Linked DNA regions of Homo sapiens: regions 2 and 3 are each linked to region 1. Evidence: fine-mapped expression QTL. A gene starts in region 1. Each other region holds a variant in brackets. All regions are shown on one strand. Distances are between the middles of the regions.

Region 1 (7,227 bases):
GATACTACGTTCAAATAAGAAATTATGCTATATCAGAGTTTCCCAGGATCTCTTTTCAAGGAAAAATTTGTGATTCTTAAAGGTAATTCTCTCATTGTCTATGAGAAGACTGACTCCATGAAGATTTCACGTCAGATGGGAACAAGAGATGGTGAATAGTAAGGGGGTGATAGTTTTGGATTGTATCAATTAGTCCATGATTTCTGTACATAAGATTCACCCTAATATGTTATATACACATCCTATAAGCTTTTAAAAATTTCCTTTTTAGATGAGTTCATGTCCTTTGTAGCGACATGGATGAAGCTGGAAACCATCATTCTGAGCAAACTATCGCAAGGACAGAAAACCAAACTCTGCATATTCTCACTCACAGGTGGGAATTGAACAATGAGAACACTTGGACACAGGACGGGGAACATCACACACTGGGGCCTGTCATGGGGTGGGGATAGGAGAGGTGTAGCATTAGGAGAAATACCTAATGTAAATGACGAGTTAATGGGTGCAGCACACCAACATGGTACATGTATACATATATAACAAACCTGCACGTTGTACACATGTACCCTAGAACATAAGTATAATAAAAAAAATTTCCTTTTTAAAGCAAACACTAATTATAATCCAGTCATGTGTCTATTAACAAGATACTTGGATATAAACAAAGTTTAGATGCAGAAGAAATAAAATATATAAGTAACCATTCAAGCAATTGAACAGTTTTCATGGCACATTTCTTGAAGAATATCATGCACATGAATTGCCTCATAAATCAGCCCAGTCCTGAAGGCAATTGAAAACTTGAACAATATCATTTATTCAAGATAAAGTTCAGGATTTCTGATCAAACATCACATATAAATTTCCAGTTGTAGTGTGAACATTATGCACATTGATCTGAACATTTGGACAAACCAGCTGCATCCCCACACAATGTGCTGATGCAACTTAGATGGATCAGAAAACAATTGTCTGAAATACTTTGTGAATTTATTAAACTAGCCAGAGAGTTTCAGAAAAGCTAAATAGATATAAATATGTTTTGTTTTCTGACTCAGAATCAGATGTCTGACTCAGAAATCAAACAGCATGGGGTGGCAGTGGTCATGGCGGGATGTGCGTGGACGTGTTTGTGTGATAACTGCAGTCATTGACATTTGTTTGCAGTCTATCTGGAACATCTGCTATATAGAACATTTTGAAAATACGTGCTATCTAAATTTCCCTCTTCTCTCAAAGATTGAATTTAAAGGGCATTGTTAGAAAGATCGTAAGTACATGGTCATATAAGCAAAATCCTGATTTGTATGGGTTTTTTGGGCAGCAAAAGATACAAGTAACAAGTAAGGGATTTCATAAATCTGGACAGGTTATGCATAACTCAAGACAGAAAGGAAGTGTCCACTCTACGTTATCCAGGCAGAAAAAAATACACGTATCAACCCAGGGCAGCTTTCATATTCTGCTTTTAAGTGTATTTGAATCTATTGGGCCGTGAAGATAAACTGGGAAGACAACAATAGCAAGTTCATAATATCAAGAACGTGCACTTTGGGGTAAGTTATTAAAGTTGACTCTTCTAAGAAAATACTGCAAGAAAATCACAGTGAGGAAGGGGAACAAATTCTTAGTAGTTTATAAAACTCAGGTATAATATTGATTTAATCAAAAGGCAAAACTGGAGCAAAAGAATAGTCCTGGGCACAGTGTCTAAAGCAGACACACCTTAAACCAACTTTGGAATGCCTTATGATTCATGTCTCAACATGAACAGTTCTAATCACAAGGGAACCTTCTCCAATGCCCTCTGAGCAGTAGTAAAATAACACACAGACTGTGTAATTTAAAGACTGCCTTACTAGCTTAACAGAGTGAATCAGAATATTGAAAACTGGCAAATTCAATAAAGGTTTAAAAATTATGACAATAATATGTTGAATAACCACTGCTATTTTAATGTTTTATTTATTTATTTGTTTGTAATTTTTGTAGAGACAGGGTTTCACCATGTTGTCCAGGCTGGTCTCAAACTCCTGGGCTCAAGCAATCTGCCCACCTCGGCCTCCCAAAATGCTGGGATTACAGGGGTGAGCCACTGTGTCCGGCAAACCATTGCTATTTTAAAACTAGACTATTTCTTAAACTCCTAAATAGCTTTCTCAGATAATAGTAGAAAGGGTACAATAAATCCAAAACAAACACAAGTCTGAAATTTTTCATCTCTAGCCTACCTTAAGCTTATATATTAAATATATAATTATTTATAATTATATAACAATTAACAAATAAACAATGTTTATTTCTCAAACCAAGTAACTTTCTATAAAAAGAATATTTATACTGCTAGAACAAGAAACTGGCTGAACAAAAGCAATTGTCTGATAAATGGCTAAATAAGTAAGGTTTATTTTTACCATATTAGGTTTCTAGAATGAAACAATTTTATAGCTAATCTGACATCTGTAATGTGACAACTGTCTTCTCACATAAATCTCTGGTAACTGTTTATATACTTTTGGGTAATACAGAAAAATGACAAATATTCCAATTTTTAAAATGCAAAATATGTATGTAGATGTATGTAGAGAATGCATTAAAACTTTAAAAGAATTTTCACACATTTGATATTTTGATATACACTGAATTCATAATTATTTTGCCCAACCCCCTAAAATTTCCAAAGAAAATAGACGAGCAAGGCCTTTTCTACCATATGAGAGGAAAAAAACTAGCTAATAAAATCAGAGTATAATATATAACAACTTGCAAGTTCAAATATACCATGCATACTAGATTTTTCTCCTTGTTTACTTTTAGAAATTTTGAGAAGTTTTAATTAATTTTAAAAGAAAAAAACAGCCACAGACAAAACCAGCTTATAATAAAAAGGCAAAAAGGGAAGTTAATGGTTAAACCCATGCATGCACCTAGCCACTCAGCAAACCTCTCTGAAAGCCCCACAATATTGCCTTCTCAAACCATTTCATTGTCATAAACTCAGGAATAATATCCTAGCTGTAATCTAGAAAAATGTCTGTAGTCCTATGCCCCGCCTGAGGGTGGACAAAAACTGGGTCATAAATGAATATTTGCTACTCACTCTTCAGTTTCCTTGTCTTCTGCTGAAGTGCCTGGCAAGTGTTCGATAATTCAGTATTTATAGTTTGAAGGTTCCGTTGTTCCGAAATTGCTTCCTCTAATTTATGCAGTAAAGACGTAGCTTTTTCACTGGCAGTGTGGGCTTCTCGATCTCGATCCTTACCCTGGACATGGATAGTTAGTGCTGGATTGTAGCAGTGTGGCCAGGAAAGAAAGCAATGGAGTGCTCACTCTTATGATGCAGGCAAAACTGAAAATGTGTTTTTCTTCTCAGGGAAGTGATAAGCCTCTCCTGAACTTCTGCAATTCTGTGTTTGCATGGGCTTGGTATGCCTGAGCTATTTCTACAGCGGTTAAAGTCCTGATATGTCAAGTTGCCTCTTTCTGCAGAGTCGCCTCTTTCATCAGCAGGCTGTTGATACCGCCTCTCTTACAACTCCCCCTTTACTTCCTCTGCTCACTGTTAGTCGCTAGGGACTGAACTTGCAGTTCCTCTTTGCTTTTTTTTTTTGTTTGTTGTTGTTGTTCCTCCTCCATTTTTATTTCATGGTTTGCAGGGCATCTGAGGAGATGTCCCCTGAATCTAATGTAGCCATGAGCCACCCTACCTGCTCCTCCACATCCTCCAGCCGTTGGCTGGTTTCTTGGAGCCTCTTCCTAAGGATGCCTTCCTGGTTGACAGCATCTTCCTGTAGTTGTTTAATGGCTTCTAGTTGTTTCTGACTGGAGTTAAAAAAAAAAAAAAAAAAAAAAGTCCAAACCGCAAGCTGTCAGTGACATTTCAACTAAGAGTCACCCTGTGAAATTATGACAAACTCAAACTTAACACCACTTCCTTAGAGATCAGAGGAAAAAGTGAAAGTATTTACATATAAATGCTTCACAAATATAAAATCTTAAGCAAAGCTTATTGGTCGCTTAGCCTGACACCCTCACTTTACAGATAAGGACTTCTAGTTTCATCTTTTACACTGGTGTGTTCAGTTCCCACCAGCTGCATTCATAGCACTTAGCATCAGTTGCCAGTTGCCAGTTACTCAGAAGATGGCTCTACAATGAGGTCAGGGTGACAGGTGCAACATTTACACATCACAGCTAGCTTTTACAGAAAAAGAAAGGAATGGGGTAAAGGTAGGGGGAGGGAAAAGAAAAGGAAAGAGAGCTTTGTTTCATGACCTTAGCCTTTCTCCTTAAGGGTTGTCAATCATAGTATAAACACGTGCCACGAGCACAGGAAGGACCGCCCCCAGGCACAGATGAAAGCTGGCGGTTGATATTTCTACTTTAGTCCTCTTTTTGCTGAAGCTTTTCTCCCCATCACCCTTCCCCACCACAGATCTCATGGTGCCATTACGTTACACCTCATTTGGATCCAATTCTAATCTCTAAAACATGTAAAAATGCACTTACTCTCTGTTAGCAGATGAGATTATTTAATGTGTGTTACATGCCAGTACCTCAATGATTATCTGGAAACAATCTGACTTGAATATGGACCTTAACTCAAAGTGGTGATAAATGTCGGGAGTTGCAAAACAGCAAGGAAGACATTGTCAGCCGTAGGCCTTGTGCATGCCTCTCAAACGTTAACATTTAGTCAGAATGCCACTGCACACTGGCACAAATCCAGCCCTGGTTACACGAAGGACCACATGAGAGGCAAGAATGGTCTCACAGAATGCTTACCATACTGGTAAACAAGCAAACAAAATCCTAAGCAAAAATAAAAACTGCCTACATCACCACACTTTCCACTGAGCGTCCTTCAATAGCTTATCGTTGTCTCTCTCACTCTCTTTTTCTCTCTTTTTCTTTAACTGTGGCAGGAACATTTAACAGGAGATTTACCCACTTAACAAATTTTTAAGTGTACAATACAGTATTATTAACTACAGGCATAATGTTGTACAGCAGATCTCTAGAACATCTTCATCTTGCATAACTGAAACTTTATACCTATTGAGTAGCAACTCCTCATTTCCCCTCCCCTAGCTCCTGGCAACCACTATTCTCTCTCTTTCTATTAGTTTAACTATTTTAGATACCTCAGAGAAGTGGGATCGTGCAGTATTTGTTGTTCTGTGACTCACTTATTTTACTTGGGATAGTGTCCTCCAGGTTTATCTATGTTGTCATATGTGGCAGAATTTCCTTCTTTTTAAAGGTTGGATAATATTCCCTTGTATTTATATACCAAATTTTCTTTATCCAATCATCCGTGGACATTCAGGTTGTTTCCAAATCTTGGCTATTGAGAATAATGCCGCAGTGAATATGGGAATGCAAATAGCTCTTCCAGGTGCTGATTTTAATTATTTTGGATAAATACCCAGAAGTGGGGTTCCTAGATCAGATGGTAGTTTAATTTTTAATATTTTGAGAAAACTCTGTAACTGTTTTTTTTTGTTTGTTTGTTTGTTTGTTTTTTTTGAGACGGAGTCTCGCTCTGTCTCCAGGCTGGAGTGCACTGGCGCGATCTCAGCTCACTGCAACCTTTGGCTCCCGGGTTGAAGCGATTCCCCTGCCTCAGCCTCCCGGGTAGCTGGGACTACAGGCACGCACCACCATGCCCGGCTAATTTTTTGTATTTTAGTAGAGACGGGGTTTCACCATGTTGGCCAGGATGGTCTCGATTTCCTGACCTCGAGATCCGCCTGTCTCGGCCTCCGAAAGTGCTGGGATTACAGGCATGAGCCACCGCACCCGGCCCTCCATAACATTTTCTATAGTGCCTGCACCACTTTCCATTCCCCCAACTGTGCACTAGGACTCCAATATCTCTACATCCTCACCAACACTTTTTTTTATTTGTTTTTTGTTTTTGTTTTTTTGAGACGGAGTCTCACTCTGTCACCCAGGCTGGATGGAGTGCAGTGGCGCAATCTCGGCTCACTGCAAGCTCCACCTCCCAAGCTAACGCCATTCTCCTGCCTCGGCCTCCCGAGTAGCTTTTTTTTTTTTTTTTTTTTTTTTTTGAGACACAGTTTCGCTGTGTTGCCCAGGTTGGAGTGCAGTGGCACAATCTTGGCTCACTGCAAGCTCCGCCTCCCGGGTTCCCACCATTCTCCTGCCTCAGCCTCCCGGGTAGCTAGGACTACAGGCGCCTGCCACTATGCCTGGCTAATTTTTTTGTATTTTTAGTAGAGACAGGGTTTCACCTTGTTAGCCAGGATGGTCTCGATCTCCTGACCTCGTGATCCGCCTCAGCCTCCCAAAGTGCTGGGATTACAGGCGTGAGCCACCGCATCCGGCCGTCTTTTAAAATAATAGCCATCCTAACAGGTATGATACAATATCTAATTATAGTCTTAACTTGCATTTTCCTAATGATTAGTTATGTTGAGTATGTTTGTACACCTGTTTGACCATTTATCGTCTTCTTTTGAGAAATGCCTATTCAAGTCTTTTGTCTATTTTTAAATCTAGTTATTTGTGTTTTTTTATTGTTGTTCTGGAGTTGTAGGGGTTTCTTATATTTTCTAAATATTAACCCCATAAGTGAAGGACCTCTTCAAGGAGAACTACAAACCACTGCTTAAGGAAATCAGAGAGGACACAAACAAATGGAAAAACATTCCATGCTCATGGATAGGAAGAATCAATATCATGAAAATAGCCATACTGCCCAAAGTAATTTATAGATTCAATGCTATTCCCATTAAACTGCCATTGGCATTCTTCACAGAATTAGAATAAACTATTTAAAAATTCATATGGAATCAAAAAAGAACCCAAATAGCCAAGACAATCCTAAGAAAAGAGAACAAAACTGGAGGCATCACGCTACCCGACTTTAAACTATACTACAAGGCTACAGTAGCCAAATAGCATGGTACTGGTACAAAAACAGATACATAGACCAATGGAACAGAATAGAGAACTCAGAAATAGGACTGTACACCAGCAACCATCTGATCTTTGACAAACCTGACAAAAACAAGCAATGGGAATAAATGGTGCTGGGAGAACTGGCTAGCTACATGCAGAAAATTGAAACTGGTCCCCTTCCTCAATCCTTATACAAAAATTAACTCAATATAGATTAAAGACTAAGTGTAAAACCCAAAACTATAAAAACCCTGGAAGAAAATCCAGGCAGTAAAATTGAGGACATAGGCACAGGCA
Region 2 (7,227 bases), 36 kb before region 1:
GTAACAATCTAAAATGATATAGCTGCTATGAAAAACAGTACAGTGGTTTCTAAAAAATTAAAAATATAATTACTATATGACCTAGCAAGCCCACTCCTGAGTCTAGATATAATCAAAAGAACTGTAAGCAAGGTCTCCAAGGGTCTCCAAGAGATATTTATACACCTACGTTTCTAACAGCACTATTCACAATAGCCAAGAAGTGGATGCAACCCAAATGCCCATCGATGTATGAATAGATAAGCAAAAATTGATAGCTACAAGAGAATTTTATTGAGCCTTAAAAAGAAGGCAATCCGCTCACATGCTATAATATGGATAAGCCTTGAAGACATTATGCTAAGTGAAATAAGCCAGTTACAAAAGACAAGTACTGTATGAATCCACTTATGCAAAGTCCCTAAAGTTGTCAAATTCATAGAGTCAGTAGGATAATGGTTACCAGGGGATGGGGTAAGGAGGAAAAGGGAAATTAACAGGTACAGAGTTTCAAGATCTGTTTTGCAACAATGTAAATAAACTTACATTGAACTGTGCACTTGAAGATGTTCAAGATGATAAATTTTATGTTACATATTTTATCACGGTAAAAAATAACGTGATTCTTTTCCATGGTTTCTCAATTTTAATGTCCTTCATCCAAAACTAAGCCTACTAATTTTCCAGCTCATCTCTAAATGTATGGTAACTTCACCATATGGAAGGATAATAGTAGTTGTTACACTCCTCTGCACCCCCATTCTTCTCTCAGTACCCTACAGCAGGCTTGCCCATCATCTGCAAGACTGAATCAGTTACCATTCTCTTTCCTCAGTTAATCATAAATGGAAATAGACTCGATTCTCTTCTTTGAAGCTTAAAATTGATATTTCCTATTGCTCAGTTTTCTGTATGATTCCTTTTCTGCCTGAAATTTGAAAATCCAGAGAAAAGGCAGATGACTCATGCAACCTACTTTAAAAAGACATTTTTCATTTTATAGCTGATACTCTCCTATTAGTGAAACTTTTATTTCAGCCTGATCCTGCATTCTTACTTTCTATGATTCACATTTGGGTCAGGCAGAGCTTGGCACCTGGTACTGGTTTGGGTCATACAAGTAATTTCATATGTAATTATGAAAGTGTTATTGAAAATATGACCAAATGTTTTCTGTGGGTGTTTTTTGTTTTGTTTTTGAGACAGGGTCTCACTCTGTCACCCAAGCTGGTATGCAATGGTGTGATTATAGCTCCCTGCAATCTCCAACTCCTGGGCTCAAATGATCCTCCTGCCTCAGCCTCCCAAGTAGCTGGGACTACAGGCACACATCATCACACCTGGCTGATTTTTTTTTTTTTTTTGGTAGAGATGGGGTCCCACTATGTTGCCCAGGATGATCTTGAACTCCGGGCCTCAAGTGATCCTCCTGCCTTGGTCTCCCATGATCCTCCTGCCTTGGCCTCCCAAAGTGCAGGGATTATAGGTGTGAGCCACTGTGCCTGGCTAGACCAAATGTTTATATCCCAAATGTTCTGATTCTCACCTCTAATAGTTTTAAACAGTTAGTGATTTCTTTCTTCAAATTTTCTTCTGCCAAGTCACGGGACCTCTCTTCAAGCTTCACTCTCTTCTCCAAGGTAAACCAGTCACACTTAAATCCCAAAGATAATCTGAGAAATTCTGCCTGTTGTCAAAATAATGTGAGGGTGAGGAAGAGGAGAGAAAACCGGATGTGGTCAGATGTTTCAGTTTAATACTGTTTTATACTGAGGCATTTCTTTCTCCCCCCAGCAACATAATGCTGACATGCACAGGGTTCACCTGCACTGAGTCACAGCCAAGCCAAACAGACACCGAGCATATGAGAGCTTGTGCCAAAACATGAAGTGACTGTAGCAGGTGAGTCTGGAACACTTTTTTAAAAGGAAAAAAAATTTGCTTTAAACTCACCTCCACCTCCTTCTCATTAGCAGAAGTGCTGTAGGATAAGACAAAAAACATATTTAAACATAATCCAACAGAAAAATAAAACATGTTAACATGCTACATGAAGAAGCACTTACTTCTCACTTTGTCTAAGGTTAACCGATTTCACAGTGGTTACAGGAAGAGGGGAAACCACAGAGTCTATTAAAATATAATAAAATATTATTTGGTTAAAAAGGCTTGACCTGTAAAAGCACATTTGATCTAATGTTATATCTCCACTAAACAAAAGTATTTCATTTAAATATGTCTGAGATGATCGCCAGCTAATAATGTATGCACTTAAATTATAATGTTATGCTAAGCTATTGGGATCACAATGCCATTACAATCATTTGTTTATACCTCAGCATGTGAATAGTCTTTCATACTTAAAGATGTCTCAGAATCAAGCAACAGCCCAATTTGTTCTCTTTGCATTTGCATGTTTGCTATACTTGATCCCATGGCTAAAAGCCTAAACCTCCTACTGGTATCCTGGTTCTTCTTTGGATCAAGGCTTTATTAGCAGTAGCAGGAACAGTAGTAGTAATAATAATAGTAGTAATAATAATACTGGTAACAATAACAGTGACAATAAACATGGCATCAACCATGGCTTTATTATATTGCCAATCACAGAGCAAAGCATTTTACACATATGATTTTATGACAACTTTACCAAGGACTATGTATTAGTTATTAAGAGCATTGGATTTAAAGTCAAACAAACTTGGTTTAAGTCTGAGCTTTGTTTGAATCTTACAGTTATGTGAGCTTGAACAAGTCACAAAGTCATTAAGCCATCTAAGATAAGATTGATAAGATAAAGATATCTTATCATCTAAGATAAGATTGATTTTTTTATAATAGTAACTAACTTTTATGAGAACTTTGGTGCCACTTTTCTAAGTGCTTCATACATATTAATTTATTCAATCCTCACAGCAAACCTTCTGTTGTAGATACTTTTATTGTCCACATTTTATAGGCTAGGCAACTGAATCACAATTTACCACCTCACATAGTATTTGGAGGACTAAATAAAACTATGCACATGAAATTAGCCTAGTTCTCAGCATAGAATATATTCTCAATTAAGTGTACTTTTCTTCTTTTCATTTTCCTCTTGCAAATGAGAAAATTGAGACTTAAGGTTAAGTAACTTTCCAAGATCAATAGCTAGTCAGAGATTGATCCCATGTAGAGTCTCTATGACTCCAAAGCCTGAACTCTATCCACTATTCCATCCCAATGGAGGTAGGCTAAGGGGAAAAGCATATTAGCACTTATTCTGTAAATAGGGGCTTTACTTTTAGATGGGATACTAAAAAAGAACTAACAGTAGAGCATAGCATTTGCTACCAACATTCGCTTGGTTCTTAGTTCACAATAGAGCACCAGTTATTACAGGTTTTCTGGGATCGCACAGTCAACACAATGCAAATGTGGCTTTTTGAAAATGACACAAATGGAATCAATAATCGGTCCTATTGACTGACCTTATCCAGAGATGCAGAATTTGTAAGTGACATAGCTTTATTCAGACAGATTTCACCCACAAAAATATCAGCAGAGAACAAAAGTTCACATGGGGATTGAAAGAAACATTCCTTACCTCCTGAAGCATGTTCTTTTTTATGTTCTTCTATTGTTTCTGGTTCCTCTTTGGCTTCCTAAAATCATAAGATTTTACCACTGTACATAGAGTGGAAATACTTCATAACCAGTCATTTTCCTACTTCCTGTCCTCTCCTAAGCCTACTCTGACAAAAACACTCTATAACAGCAGTCCCCAACCTTTTTGGTACCAGGGACCAGTTTCCTGGAAGACAGTTTTTCCACGGGGGTGAGGTGAGGGGGAAACAGTTTCTGAAGGAACCTGTTCCACCTCAGATCATCAGGCGTTATTCTCCTAAGGAACATGCAATCTAGATGGCTCGCTTGCACAGTTCACAATAGGGTTCGTGGGAATCTAATGCCACCACTGATTTGACAGGAGGCAGAGGTCAGGTGGTCATGTTCCCTGGCCTGCCGCTCACCTCCTGCTGTGCGGCGCAATTCCTAACAGCCTCGAATGGGTTCTGATCCCTGGCTCAGCAGCGACTGGGGACCCCTGCTCTACAGTTTTTAATGCTGTTAAGAAGGAAATAAAATTGGCTGCAAGGG[C/T]GCTTCCAATCTAGTTGAAGCAAAAAGGGCGTAAATACATGAAAAGATGCAAACATGATGTGAATTACAACAATGCAAACTAGGATTAATTGCCAAATAAATGAGATAGATAAACAAGTGCTCTTAATAGGAAGGAAATGGCAGGGCGCTGTGGCTCACGCCTGTAATCTCAACACTTTGGGAGGCTGAGGTGGGTGGATCACCTGAGGTCAGGAGTTCAAGACCAGCCTGGCCAACATGGCAAAACCCCGTCTCTACTAAAAATACAAAAATTAGCCAGGGGTGGTGGTGCAGGCCTATAATCCAAGCTACTCTGAAGGCTGAGGCAGGAGAATCACTTGAACTGGGGAGGCAGAGGTTGCAGTGAACCGAGATCATGCCACTGCACTCCAAGCTAGGCAGCAGTGCAAGGCTCTGTCTCAACAAAAAAAAAAAAAAAAAAAAAAAAAAAAAGGAAGGAGAGTGGCACCATGACACCATGACTTGAGTAGCATGGAATTTCTGCAGACAAGAAACATGCTGAAGTTTGATGAAGAGGTAGGACTGGATAGATGAAAAGGTAAGGTGTGGGTGATATAGGGCTATCACATGGAGTTTTCTAGATAGGTTTTTGGAGAAATTGTGACAAAGATGGCTGCTAAGACAGTGTTATGTTAGGCTTTTACCGCATATAGATATGTTTTAAGGTCACATAAGGAGTTGTGTGTGGCTGCTGTTTCTAGCTCTTCCTCTCCCATTCGTGATCAATTAACTACTCTACCCCTTTACACAGCACTCCAAGAAAAGTGTTCTCACCAGCTATCAACTCCCTATTGCCAAATCCAGTGGATAATTTTCAGTCTTTATCTTACTTGACCTTACTATAGCATCTAAAATTATCTATACATCCTTTCCTCTTGAAGATTTTTTCCCCTTGATTTCCCTGTTCTGATGCCCCAGCCCCGCGTCACAGCCCGTTCTCAGTCTCCTCTGCCTTCTCTAGTAGATATTGTTAGCCAGGATTCCATTATCCTCAATGCTCCCTTCCTTCCTGCCACAGTCCTTGGGAAATCTCATCCACACACTTGGATTTTTGCTGATAATTCACAAATATATGTCAGCTTTCAAAAACCGCACAGGTGAGTTTATGAATATGGGTATGCAGCCGTATATAAAATCTCCTTACCGACTATCAATGTCTCAGATCAGCCTGAAATTTGACTTGTCTCAAACTGATCTTATTTTACCCCACAAATTCTACTCTCCTTCCTCCTTCCCTACTGTCATGTTATTCTATTCATTCGGTAGGTTAAGCCATAAGCCTGGGTATCTACCGTTTCCCATACCCGTGACATGTCATCATCCTCTGTGAATTCTACCCCTAAATATTTCTCAAATTTATCTCCTTTTCTCCACCTTCACTAAATTCATACTACCTTCATCTCATCTGAATTATTGCCATAGTATCCTAACCAGTCCCACAACTTCCAATGGCAAATTGATCCATTATTTTAAAAAGTGTCTTTATGTCTATATTTTTTTTGAGATGAGAAGGAATTTTATTCTCTCAGAAGATTCTACTATGAAAGAGTAAAGGACTTGAGTTTTCTTCTGTTCATTTTTTACTAGGAGCAACCATTTTCAGCATATGTGCTAGCCAACACTATATCCTACCTATACAGCTGGCCCTCTGTATTTGTGGGTTTGCATCTATGGATTTAACTAAAAAAAATGTAGTTAGGCCTACAATGGTTGTATCTGTACTGAACACACGCAGATTTCCTTTCTTGTCATTATAACTATTTACATAGCATTTATACTGTATTAGGTATCATAAGCAGTCTAGAGATGATTTAAAGTATATAAGAGGATGTGTTAGTGATATGGGAGGTGGGCAGGGAAGTGCTGGATAGAGAAAGGCGGGGTCCCCAGTGAGGGCTCCACCCTCAGGCCTGTGCCTGCAGACCTAAGTGAGAACAGGCACTCCTGTTTTTGTGTCTGAATGTTGTATTTTCCAAGACCACTCTGGCCTACCATGCCCCTCATCCTGTGCCAACATAAACCCGAGACCTTAGTGGGCACACAACACAAGCAGCTGAAGTGAGCACACAACACTGGCAGACCAGCAGACTGGCAGACTGACAATAGTGGAATGACATGGCAGAGAAAGAGAGAAGAGGGGGGATGTCTGGATGCCAAGGGGAGTTTAGCCTGGGGCAGTTGGAGAAGAGTATGGCCTCTGGGCAGCCTGACTCCAGGGGAATACCCCCTTCCCATTCCATACCACCTTCCCACTCCATCCCCCCTTCTGGCTCCGCATCCATCTTACTGAGAGCCACCTCCACCACTCAGTAAAACCTTGCACTCATCCTTCCAGCTCACGTGTGATCTGATTCTTTTGGGACACTGAGCGACAGCTCAGGATACAGAAAGCTGTCACACTGGCCCTCTGCCCTTGTGATAAGGCTGAGGGTCCATTGAGCTAATTAACACACAAGCTGTCTGCAGATGGCAAATCTGAAAGAGCTTTGTAACACACACTCACTTGGACTTTGGGAATCACAGACACTGACCCCTAGATGCTGCCAGGGGGCAGAGCCCAAAAGCGCTTGCCCTGGCCTCTGCAGCTGCTGGTCTGCATGTTCCCCCTAGGGGCTTGAACTATGGGGTGACTAAGCAGGTGAGACACACCACTGCTGCATGTCCTGCAAGGGGAATCAGGGAACTCTCCCGTTTCATTAGGTTATATGCAAATACTATGCAATTTTTATATAAGAGACTTGAGCATTCTCTGATTTTGGTATCTGTGGGGTTCTTGGAATCAATCGCCTCTGGATAACAAAGGAAACGAATGACATCATGTCATTGTTCCAAATCACAAATCCAATCATTTCACTATCTTTAGAATGAAATGCTGAAAAATTTTCATCTACTTTTTTGCCCCAAGTCTGTGCCATGGCCTCCTCTTAACTTGAGTTAGCTTGCATGGGTCTCTGTTTCTTGCAACCAAATGCTTAACTAGAACAATGCTTGTATATTGAGAAGAAAAAAACAATAATACACACACACACACACACACACACACACCCCTCCATGCATACAACATAGCAAGACATAAGCAAGACATAAGCA
Region 3 (5,000 bases), 92 kb before region 1:
TACAAATATACACTCATTAAATACCAGGTCTTCCTCTTCTCTTTACCCACTTAACTCCTCTGCCCTCCAAAAAAGTAGAAGTGGTAGGTGCTTTCTTTTTCTTTTTTTTTTGAGACACAGTCTTGCTCTGTCGTCCAGGCTGGAGTGCAGTGGTGTGATCTCGGCTCACTACAGCCTTTGCCTCCTAGGTTCAAGCGATTCTTTGTGCCTCAGCCTCCTGAGTAGCTGGGATTACAGGTGCACGCCACCACACCTGGCTAATTTTTTTGTATTTTTAGTAGAGACGGGGTTTCACCATGTTGGTCAGGTTAGTTTCAAACTCCTGACCTCAAGTGATCAGCCTGCCTCGGCCTTCCAAAGTGCTGGGATTACAGGCGTGAGCCACTGCGCCCAGCTAATAGGTACTTTCTATATGGCAATCTGGATTTTTTTTTTTTAATGTATCTTTGTGACTTAAAAATAATAGGTTTTCTTTTCTTTTTTTTTTTGAGACAGAGTTTGGCTCTTGTTGCCCAGGCTGGAGTGCAAGGGCGCAATCTCGGCTCACTGCAACCTCTGCCTCCTGTGTTCAAGCGATTCTCCTGCCTCAGCCTCCTGAGTAGCTGGGATTACAGGCATGTGCCACCATGCTTGGCTAATTTTGTATTTTTAGTAGAGACGTGGTTTCTCCATGTTAGTCAGGCTGGTCTCAAACTCCCGACCTCAGGTGATCCGCACATCTCGGCCTCCCAAAGTGCTGGGATTACAGGCGTGAGCCACTGCGCCCGGCAAACATAATAGGTTTTCATATGTGTATTTCTTGGACATTTTAGTGCTATTTCCCCAATAGTTTTCAACAAAGAAACATCTTTCTGAGGAATGACAGTGACGATGGCAAATTCATGAGTGCTTGGTTGCTGCTTGATCTTTAAACATTTTAAGTTACTTGCATTAGTATAGCAGTGAGTTTTAGAGAAAAATTACCAGAATAAAAATTAGGAGGCCTAGGTTCTGGTCCTACCTCTGAAAAGACTAGCTATGTGACATTTAAAAAAAACTAGACTTTATTTTTGATAGTTAGTAAAAGGGAAGAAAAAAATATTTCCTAAGTTCCTTCCATTTGCTATGAAAAACAAAAAAACCAACTTTTTGGTTTACATCTAATCAGAGACAATATAGTAACCTTTCTCATTGTAAAATATGTCAAGTACAGAAAAGTTAAGGAAATAACTCTTTATAGTTTTAAAAGAATAAAAATAAAATGAATAGCTCTGTACTCACTACCCAGGTTTAAGAAGAGAATTAGGTGGTGTCTTTTACGAGATAAGGAATAGTGCAGGCAGAACAAGTTTCACTTTGATGGTGATTGGGGTGGGGGTTGTAAGGATGATGAGTTCTGTGCTCAACTGGCTGAGTTTGAAGTACTTACAAGATATCAAAGTGCAACTGGCTGAAGGCACTGAGAGAAATCTGAGGTGTAGTATATTTTGAGGAGTCATCAACATATAGACCAATGGTTCTTCACTTTTTGGGAGTCATAGATTCTTCCGAATGTCAAGTAATTACAGATGCTTGCACTTGTGGAAGGGCATTTTTAGACCGCTTAAAGTCCATTCAGAGATGCATCATACTCCTACCCAAACCTAGGAAAAATAAAGCTCATATTACAAACCTCTGATAGTATAGATAGTAATTCAGGCCACAGAAGTAAAAATATCCAGAGAGTGTATGTTGAGGGAGAGGAGAAAAAGGGCTTAGGATGGAGCACTGAGTAATATCAACATTGAAGGGATGGTTAGGAAGAAGGCCATATAGAGGAGACAGAAGGAACTTCCAGAGATGGAGAAGACTGTGGGGTTATGGATCCCAATAAACTGTTTTGAGAAGGATAGCATCAGCAACTGGGTCCAAATGCTGCAAAGAAAGCACATATGATCAGAGTCAAAATTGGAGCAAAATTAAAGTGAAGAGAAATACTGCTTAGGTATAAATTTGACACAGATCTAGAGTTTCCTAGGGTCTCATCTTTTTTTGTTGTAATTAATTATTAACAGGCACAGAAGTGTTAGATTCTCTGAAACACAAATTGGATTTGAGATTCCAAGGATATTAGCAACAAGTGACATTGCTGTACGACTCCTGCATACCCACTATGATCATGTTTCTGCACTGCACCCTGTTTCAACACCATCAAAAGAATACACTTCTGCAGTAACTGAGCTTGTCAAAGATGATGTTAAGAATGTAGAAAAAGCAATCAGCAAGGAGGTCGAAGAAGAGTCCAAACAACAAGAAAGAGGGTCTCACTTAATTCAGGAGGAAGAAATAAAAGTTGAGGAGGAACAAGGTGATATTGAAGTGAAAATGGTAGGACACATTTAAATATACACATTTTTTTATTCATGCAGCATGCGTTATTAGATTCCCTTAAAGTGTTCTCAAGATTTTTCCTAAACAACTGGAAATTGTCTGGGAGCCACTTTCTTGCCAGTGCCTCAATTTTTAATATGTATCTTTTTCTTGCCTTCCATTAATAGTCAATTAATAGTTGAGCCACTAGCTTCAACATCCTAAAGTTCAGCACAGGAATTGCTTATTTTTATATTAGGTGCACAACCGGGCAGCTTTGATGCCATTTAATTTTTGTATATTTATTATATATTTCAAATTCAAGGGAACTTGCCATTAAATGGAAACTTACAGTAAATAATCTTATATTACCCTGTTACTTCCTCAGTTTTTGGTTTTGTAAGAAATAATTTTATAAAGTAAAAATTAATTTTCTTAAAATATTACACTCTTCTCTGAAAAT[C/T]TGACATCTTTAGAGATAGCTTTTGACCAATTTAATAATCATATTCCTTTAGTTAGCTTCTTCTCTTTTTTCTGTTGGCAAGATTGTCAAGCTACTTATTTATGTTAGAAAAAATGTCTCTTAAGAATTTAGTAATACTTTCTCAGAGCTAAGCAGATTCTTTGTTTAATAGCCTATTTGCATGTTATGAGGGACCAAAATATCTCAAGTTTTCTGACAAGTGCTTAAGACATGAAATGTATTGGTTTATTGATTTATTTTCTTTAAACACAGGAAAGGATTAAGGATTAGATTGAATACAAATTTAAAATCAGAATAGGAATTATTAGATACTCTAAGAACACGTGATTTATTAAGAATTCAATTTAAAATATTACACTGGTATCAAAAATTATAGGCCGGGCGTGGTGGCTCACGCCTGTAATCCCAGCACTTTGAGGTCAGGAGTTCGAGACCAGCCTGGCCAACATGGTGAAACCCTGTCTCTGCTAAAAATACAGAAAATTAGCCGGGCGTGGTGGTGTATACCTGTAATCCCAGCTACTTGGGAGGCTGAGACAAGATAATTGCTTCAACCCAGGAGGCGGATGTTGCAGTGAGCCGAGATCATGCCATTGCACTTCAGCCTGGGTGACAGAGTGAGACTTTGTCTCAAAAAAAAAAAAAAAAAAAATTATGAAGACTCTGTAGCAATGTAGAAAAATGGATATGACATAATGCTAAGTATAAAAAAATTGTATTTAGACTCTAATGACAAGCACGTGAAAATTTTAAAGGCATAAGGAAATGAGAACCCAGAAATCTGTGCATAGCTCATATTTTAGAGAGGAGGGAAATGATTTATTCTTCTTTAAAAATTTGTCATTTTTGTTTAAATGTTTTTTGGGCAATAAGATAGTTTTTAAAATAAAAATTTCATGTGAACTCTCAGATAGTTTAGAAGCTTTACTAGAGACAATAGTATTTCCAGTTCTCTTCCCTTTCCTGGAATATGGAAGGATTATACTCCTTTCCATGTTGCAGCTAGGCATGACCATGTGACTTAGCTAATAAGATGTGATTAGACATGACAAACTCATTTCCAAGGGGGAAAAAAATAGAATGGGTAAATAGGTCTTGGACTTAACATTGTTTCAATATGGAGTAAAATACAAAATTAAACCCCATTAACCTAAAATAAAGTTAGGGAGGATTTGTGATTTTATATTCCTGAAAACAAAGAACCTATCAGTATTTTACATAAGAATTTCACATTATTGATTTTAAAATTGTGAAATAATAATTTGGAACCATAAAATTTGAACTATTACTTGCATTTACATGGCTAAAGCATTTTTTTCTTATGCATCTATCTCAAAGTGGCCTCATGTAGTAATAATTAATTATAGTTCTGTTAATTTTGGCAGTAGTTTTGTTTTTTTTTTATTTCAAAAGGTTTTTGGGGAACAGGTGGCATTTGGTTACATGGATAAGTTCTTTAGTGGTGATTTCTAAGATTTTGGTGCACCCATTACCCGAGCAGTGGACACTACCCATTGTGTAGTCTTTTATCCCTCATCCCCCTCCCACCCTTCCCTTGAGTCCCCAAAGTCCATTGTATCATTCTTATGCATTTGCATCCTCATAGCTTAGCTCCCACTTATAAGTGAGAATATGTGATGTTTGGTTTTCTATTCCTGGGTTACTTCACTTACAATAATGGTCTCCAGTTCCATCCAGGTTGCTGCAAATGCCATTATTTCATTCTCTTTTATGGCTGAGTGGTATTCCATGGTACACATATACCTCATTTTCTTTATCCACTTGTTGATTGCTGGGCATTTGGGCTGGTTCCATGTTTTTGCAATTGCAAATTGTCCTGCTATAAACATGCATGTGCAAGTGTCCTTTTCATATGACTTATTTTCCTCTGGGCAGATACCCAGTACTGGGATTGCTGGATCAAATGGTAGATCTACCTTTAGTTTTTTCAGGAATGTGTTAGTTTACATTCCCACCATCAGTGTAAAAGTGTTCTCTTTTCACCCCATCCACTCAAACATCTATTATTTTTTGATTTTTAAATTATGGCCTTTTTTTTTTCTTTTTTTGAGACAGAGTCTCACTCTGTCACTCAGGCTGGAGAGCAGTGGCATGATCTCAGCTCACTGCAACCTCCACCTCCCAGGTTCAAGCAATTCTCTTGCCTGAGACTCCTGAGTAGCTGGGA

Evidence for each region. PIP is the estimated chance that this variant, and not a neighbour inherited with it, causes the effect.
Region 2: its variant is the best candidate, but not a certain one, in a credible set for the expression of IRAG2 in tibial nerve (GTEx, PIP 0.79).
Region 3: its variant is the best candidate, but not a certain one, in a credible set for the expression of IRAG2 in sun-exposed skin (GTEx, PIP 0.83).

Annotation. Positions count from the first base shown.
Region 1 is chr12:25,048,833-25,056,059 of GRCh38, reverse strand. IRAG2 (inositol 1,4,5-triphosphate receptor associated 2) reads right to left here and starts at 3,354. Exons shown (of 22, transcript NM_001366544.2): 1 at 3,104-3,354. RefSeq lists enhancers at 3,480-3,849, 3,890-3,999.
Region 2 is chr12:25,084,496-25,091,722 of GRCh38, reverse strand. IRAG2 (inositol 1,4,5-triphosphate receptor associated 2) reads right to left here. Exons shown (of 22, transcript NM_001366544.2): 11 at 3,566-3,623; 12 at 2,046-2,109; 13 at 1,933-1,960; 14 at 1,526-1,666. Among named protein-coding and RNA genes, the nearest start is that of IRAG2, 35 kb to the right of the region's middle. The variant C/T (reference allele first, on the strand shown) is at 4,117.
Region 3 is chr12:25,141,711-25,146,710 of GRCh38, reverse strand. DNAI7 (dynein axonemal intermediate chain 7) reads left to right here. Exons shown (of 16, transcript NM_018272.5): 9 at 2,034-2,346. Among named protein-coding and RNA genes, the nearest start is that of DNAI7, 51 kb to the left of the region's middle. The variant C/T (reference allele first, on the strand shown) is at 2,792.